2 linked regions of the Homo sapiens genome follow. The protein of the gene in region 2 purifies or fractionates together with the protein of the main gene of each other region. This does not show direct contact. Each region holds a gene or a part of one and is shown on either strand. Other genes may lie near its edges.

What was found.
Region 1: the proteins of MAML1 (region 2) and RND3 purify together in Homo sapiens (affinity purification with western blotting; one study listed by BioGRID). This does not show direct contact.

The regions. Positions count from the first base shown.
Region 1 is NC_000002.12:150,470,668-150,474,167, forward strand, and holds part of RND3 (rho-related GTP-binding protein RhoE precursor), read right to left. Parts: intron 1,095-3,500; coding exon 960-1,094; intron 1-959. UniProt on the Homo sapiens protein: Binds GTP but lacks intrinsic GTPase activity and is resistant to Rho-specific GTPase-activating proteins.
Region 2 is NC_000005.10:179,767,322-179,770,821, reverse strand, and holds part of MAML1 (mastermind-like protein 1), read right to left. Parts: intron 1,973-3,500; coding exon 1,733-1,972; intron 1-1,732. UniProt on the Homo sapiens protein: Acts as a transcriptional coactivator for NOTCH proteins. Has been shown to amplify NOTCH-induced transcription of HES1. Enhances phosphorylation and proteolytic turnover of the NOTCH intracellular domain in the nucleus through interaction with CDK8.

The sequences.
Region 1 (3,500 bases), on a different chromosome or scaffold from region 2:
GAATGGCGCAGAGAAGCTTACTAGTGAAGTAAGTTAGCTGAAGGTCATGAACATAAACTCTGCATTTTCCACACAGCTCTGGCCGTGGCGATGTGGCCTTGAGAACCTGTTCCAGCGCCTCATGGTGCACTTCATTTCTCTTTTCTTGAGGGTAAATGGCATTCAAGACTAGTGACTAGGTTGTACCAAAAACAGGGGCAATGAATGAAATTTAAAATCGATTTTGAAATGTATGTGATTGTGTCTTACTTAGGGCCGAAATGCGTTGAGGAAAGGAATAATACTATTGTAACATCTGTTACTTTATGAAACACAACATATGTAATTTCTAAGTGTGAACCATACCACCAACGTACACAACAATAAGCATGTGCACATTAACCAAAACTACTTATTTAAAATACCAAATTTTTTGCTAATGAGAAATGGAAGACTAAGAAGACTGCGGTATTTAAAATGATGATTCTTAATAAAATTTTGGTATTTCAACATGAACTCTCTTTAGAATCTGGTTGTAGGTTTTATGAGAATGAGCTTTTGAAACTGATTCTCATTTCTAAATACTTGGGGGAAATGCTTACAGAAATGAAGACTCTCTGAAAGATGGTGTTATGGAGTGTTCCACTTTACTGGCAACAGCCTTATTATTGTACTGCCGACTGTAAAATCAGATTACCCCTCTTAAAGAGTATTACTGATTTTGACCACATTCTCTCTTAAACCTATTTAACTTTAAACCTACTGGGAGGTGCAGAAATATACAAGGTTAGCATATCAACTGTTTATGTACCCGAATATCATGTAATTACACTAATAAATGACAGCATTTTAAATTTCACAACTGACCACTGGGTGAGCCTTTAGAAAAGCAGCTACTTTTTATTTTATTTATTATGAGTGATAGTCCATTTCTTTCACTCTTTCTAAAATCCAGTTTTGCACATGGGCAACATACATACCTGGTCATAGGACACTGGCGTCTGCCTGTGATTGGAGAGCTCTACTAATGTACTAACATCTGTCCGCAGATCAGACTTGCAGCCGACCAAGAGCATTTTGGTATTTGGACAAAATTCCTGGATTTCACCTTTCCACTATGAAAGAAAAAAAAAAAAGATTAAAAATGAACAAAGTAACGGTATCCATATCATGAAAACCATTTCTCCACTGGCTGACATTAGAATGAAACTCAGAAAAGATGTTAAAAATGGAGTGTCCCTTGAGATGAAGAAGCAAACTTTGCATTTATCTCCTGAACAGATGTGAAGTTTTACTACTTTTTAAGCATTAGAGAATAATTATGTATATTATGATTGATTCTCCCTCTCTGTGACTCATCTGTTGCTACTGAAAGAGACTTGGTAGATGTTGTCCAAAGGTAGCTTCAATAATGTCTTAATTATTGGTGTGTCTCTTAAAGATAAATGTGTCTTAAGAATAATTATATATCCTAACAAGTGACCACATCCTTCGATGTGTGGATCTGATCCTCCTTCACTAGAAGGCTGGGGATAAGGCAGAGGCAACACTAGCACAAGTATGCATTCCCTGATCCCATCATGAAACACTGAAGCATGCCACCACGAGCTGAGGCTCTATTTTAAGTACCTGAGATAGTTAATAAAACAGAACATCCTGCCTTGAAGGAGTTTCTGTTCACATGGTTGCATCAACACAGACCATGACATTTGCAAAGGAACATCTCTTGGGTCATCGGGAAGGCAGCTGGTCCTGTAGCTCATATGCCTTCAAGTTAGTTTAAAACTATTTCAATCTATTCCAATTTGTCTAGTTGTTTCATGATCTAACAAGAATTATTAGAACCTTCAGCAATGCCTGGCTTGGAATTCCAACTGTCCTCTTTAAGAACAAGCAAGCAGCTTTTTGTGGCTTCATTTCCTCAAGCTTGAGCTCTGCAACAGCATGGGAGTCAAGAGTTCAGGGCGGTCACAGGAGATCTTTGGCCTTTGAGGGCAGGGCCTAGAGAGGCTGAGATGGGGAAGTGGCGCCTGACTCTTCCCACCCACATTCACAAATATGTAAGTGTTCTACTAAGTACTGTGGCAGTGACAATGATGACTAAGACATAGCTGTGTCTTCTGGAAGGAAATTCACAGAATACTGGGGGTGATGAAGTCATGTATTAAGTATAACACTAGATAAGAGGGACATCCTGCAAGAATAACTTAAAAGATCACTAGAGGAGACATCTCCAAATCTAGGGGTGTACTTTGGGTAACGAACTCTAGTGCAAACTACACCAGAGGATTCAAAGGAGTAATATACTTTCCATAAGAGCCCATTTTGTCCACTTATTCCTCCCTTCCTCCCTCCCTCCCTCCCTTCCTTCCTTCCTTCTTTCCTTCTTTCCTCCCTCCCTTCCTCTCTCCCTCTCTCCCTCACTCCTTTCAGAATTATGTAGGAACACCTACCACATGCTAGGTGGCACTGGCATTAGAAGTGGAAGGTGAACTGGAAAAAAAAAAAAAAGAAATCCTCCCTACTTCAAGTCATTCTAACCTCCTCTTTGATAGTGAAGGACTTAAAGGGTTCCATTAATCAAGACAAACCGCAGGGGTTATCATGAGCCTTAAACCTCACAGGAATGTAAAACATACTCATTAATATCTATAAGCCCAAAGTCACTATTCATTTGGTCTTAGAAGACAAAAGCAAAATAAAACAGGAGAAAGGCTTTTCATCATAAATTATGCATAGCCTGATACTACATCAAGTAAAATCTCTAGTAAATAAGCAACCCCTTTTATCTCCAGACAGAACTAGACATGTTGTTATGTTGCTCTTCAGCTGTGTAATGACTTTGGCCTCCCTCTGCATGTCTAGCAATTGTTTACAAGCATTAAAGACAGGAAAGGTGTATTCCTGCCTGGATTTGACAAGCATTAGCATTATTTGTGTTAGATATGTATTACTCAAAATTGAAAGGAGCTAAAAAGGAAAAAAGAGTCTTTGATCTATTAAGAAAGAGATCTACTAAGAGTTTTATTGAACTCTGTTTGTAATATTTAGTAGAGACAGAAGGATTATTATACTTCAAATCCTGATTTCACAATGACACACAAGCCAAGCAATCAAATATAATAGGGGAATGTAAACTAATAAAAACACACAAAATACAAATAAATTCCACTAAAAATTAAAATGAAAAAAACAAAACCAACCTAGCCACACCTGCATGTTTGTCTTTCTCAATCCATACCATACTCAGACTGGGCTGCATGGGTCACCCCTCAGTTGACACTGCCTTGCTCTCAGCCACATCCGGTGTTGAAGCCAGTGTGTGGAGGAGAGGGAGTGCTCCAACAAGGATCTGATTCTGAAACCCCACAGCACACAGGCCAGGGCTGAGAAAATAGCTAGTGGCTAATAAATGCTGATCCATGGACTAACACGGCATGTGCCTTCTACAACTACCTGGAGGCTGAGTCTCAACTGCTGAAGGTCAAGAAACGCCCCTTCCTCCCACTGGCCTCCCTAGT
Region 2 (3,500 bases):
AAATCAGCACCCTCATACACCGCTGGTGGGAATGTAAAATGAGACAGCCTGTGGGAAACAGTCTGACAGTTCCTCCAAAGGTTAAACATAAAAATTACCATGTGATCCAGCAATTCCACTCCCAGGTATCTACCCAAGAAAAATGAAAACAGATGTCTATATGAAAACTTGTACATGAATGTTCATAGCAGCAATACTCATTAACAGCCCAAACAAGAAACCCAAATGTTCATGAACAGACGAATGAATAAAATGTAACATGTCCATACAATGGAATATTATTATCAAGAGGAATCAATTGCTGTTACCTAGCACATGATTGAAAATGACATAACATAAATATAAAATGTCCAGAACAGACAATTTTTTTTTTTTGAGATGGAGTCTTGCTCTGTCGCCCAGGCTGGAGTGCAGTGGCGCGATCTCTGCTCACTGCAAGCTCCCCTCCCAGGTTCACGCCATTCTCCTGCCTCGGCCTCCCGAGTAGCTGGGACTACAGGCGCCCGTCACCACACTTGGCTAATTTTTTGTATTTTTAGTAGAGACGGGGTTTCACTGTGTTAGCCAGGATGGTCTTGATCTCCTGACCTCGTGATCCGCCCACCTCGGCCTCCCAAAGTGCTGGGATTATAGGAGTGAGCCACTGCGCCCAGCCCAGAGCAGACAATTATAGAGACAGAAAGTAGATCAGGAGCTGGAGAGGCAGGGTGGATGGGAGAATGGCTGCTCATGGGTATGGGATTTGTTTTAGGGTAATGAAAATGTTCTAAAATGGATTGTGGTAATGGTTGCACAACTCTGTGATATACTAAAAATGACTAAATTGTTCACTTACGTGGGTGAAGTGTATGCTGTGTGAGTTACATCACAATAAAGCTGCTTTTCTTAAAGGCAGAACTGAGGCAGGGATTGTCCTCAATGAACCTCACTGTCTGGAGCCAGTTCTTATGTCTTAAAGATGTAATTTAAGGCCAGGCGTGGTGGCTCACGCCTGTAATCTCAGCACTTTGGGAGGCCGAGATGAGTGGATCACTTGAGGTCAGGAGCTCAAGACCAGCCTGGCCAACGTGGTGAAACCCCATCTCTACTAAAAACACAAAAATTAGCCAGGCATGGTGGTTCTTGCCTGTAGTCCCAGCTACTCGGGAGGCTGAGGCAGGAGAATTGCATGAACCCATGAGGTGGAGGCTGCAGTGAGCCAAGATCGCACCACTGCAGTCCAGCCTGGGTGACAGCAAGACTCTGTCTCCAAAAAAAAAAAAGAACTCTCACTTGTAACCCTTAGTGCCTGCACACTACACTTGCTAACCAAGCGAGTGAACTGTGTTTCCCTCAGGGATGACTTCACTTCCCTCTTCACGTTCTGGCTTATAACAGGCTCTGTAGTGGCAGCAAAGCTGACTCCATAGTGGAATGACAGACACGTGAGCTCAGTGGCTTGGAAGCTGCTGACCTGAAACATAGGAAAATGTCCCTTCCACAAACAGTTTTAGCCCCCGAGTCTGCCTTGAGTACTCTCCACTAAGTGACACGAAGCAGCTTCTGACAAGACTACCCCTGTCTGAGAAATGCCACATTCCTGGAAAGATGTTTTTAAAAGGCAAAGCACTCTAACAACAGGCACGCAAGTCTGCGCAAATCCACACGCACAAGCAGAAGGTGTGACTGTAGCAGTGACGCAGGGTGCAGGCAAAGGTGGGAAGCGGTGGTTTCCTTCCACTTTTCTTTTTACCTGTTCCGCGAGAAGGTGCTGTTGCCTCTGAAGGAACTGCTGTTGCTGTAAATGCTTTTGCTGCTGCTCCCTTTGTTTCTGTTGGTCCAAAAGCAACTGATGCTGCTTCATTACAGCGGCCTGTTGCTGGCTGCTGAGATAGGGGGAGCTGTTGTGGGAGCTGGCCACGGACACGGCAGGCGGCTGGGTCCCAACACTGGTAGCCTGGGCTTGCACAGGGACACTGGAAGGGTTCTGCTCCTGTCAACACAGATAGGGGACTGTGAAGTCTCTAAGCTCTGATCAGACCAAATAAGCTCCATCCAGTGAATTCAAGGTTCACTCTCTTGAAGCCAAGTCTCTGCTTCCCTTCTGACCTCGAATAACAACCATCCCACAGGGCTGGAGCACAGACCAAAAGTGATGACATCTGAGCATACAGGCGCCTAGCAACGAACAATTACTCCATAGGTGTTAGTTTTACTCCCAGTGATTCACCAGTGACAAAGGTATGGTTTTACGTTAAGCATATGTAAGCTTTCATATTTGCACACAATAGTTCCAGTAAGCAATCGAGGCTTAGAAATGCTCACTTATCAGGACATCTGAGTGCAGAGCGGGCCAATAGGGGAAGAATACTTTTTGTTTTTTTTCAGACGGAGTTTCGCTCTTGTTGCCCAGGCTGGAGTGCAATGGCACGATCTTGGCTCACCGCAACCTCTGCCTCCCGAATTCAAGCGATTCCCCTGCCTCAGCCTCCTGAGTAGCTGGGATTAGAGGCATGTGCCACCACACCTGGCTAATTTTGTATTTTTAGTAGAGATGGGGGTTTCTCCATGTTGGTCACGCTGGTCTCGAACTCCCGACCTCAGGTGCTCCACCCACCTCGGCCTCTCAAAGTGCTGGGATTACAGGCATGAGCCACTGCACCCGGCCTAGGGGAAGAACACTTTGAAGGGGGCTTTGGTCAATGGAGACCACTCTGTCCCATGTGCATAAACCTTGGATTTCGGGCTATCCCTGAACGACCCGAAACTGTACATCTGCGCAAGCATTTTACTGGAAGAGACTGCTTAGCTTTTGTCAAATACCCATCCTCAAAAAATACTGAGAATCAATGAGAACTTTAACAGATATTCTCTGTCAATATATAGACCACAAGTGAGAGTCATGTCAAAGGCCACCACAATATTATCCCGTCATTACTGACACTTAGAAGAAAAGGGGAACTTAGCAGAAGATAGGCAAAAAGCAATCATTATTTAAACCAGTTCAAATTGTTGAGCTCCTTTCTAGTTATTCATTCTAAGATTCTGGTATAATTTCTTCACTCTAATCACCAGAAGCTTAAGAACTACTGAGAGTGCTTCGTAAGTTGCAAAGTGCTACCCAGATGGCAAGCACCCTCACTGTGTGCAGCTGAGCCTCTCTTCAGGGGGTGCTGAACGGCGTGAGACATCTTACTGGCTGAAGTAAGTGGAATTATCAGCACTGGGAGATGCTTAAATGGCTTACAGTTTTTGGCTATTAGAAATAACCACACAATGAATATCTTGGATATAACTTTTTCTTTTATTTTGGATTATTTCTTTAGATCAACTTGTCGGGTATATAGTGTGTCAATGCATATGAACATTTTACAGCATGTGAAAAATACATAATGTCAAATGACTTCCCAAAAGCAGTGAGCTCATTTACACACTCTCATCAATACAGGAGTGTGTCTATTTCCTCATGATATTACCGGCACTGGGCTTTTTAATTTGCAAAATTTTAGCATGTATTACAA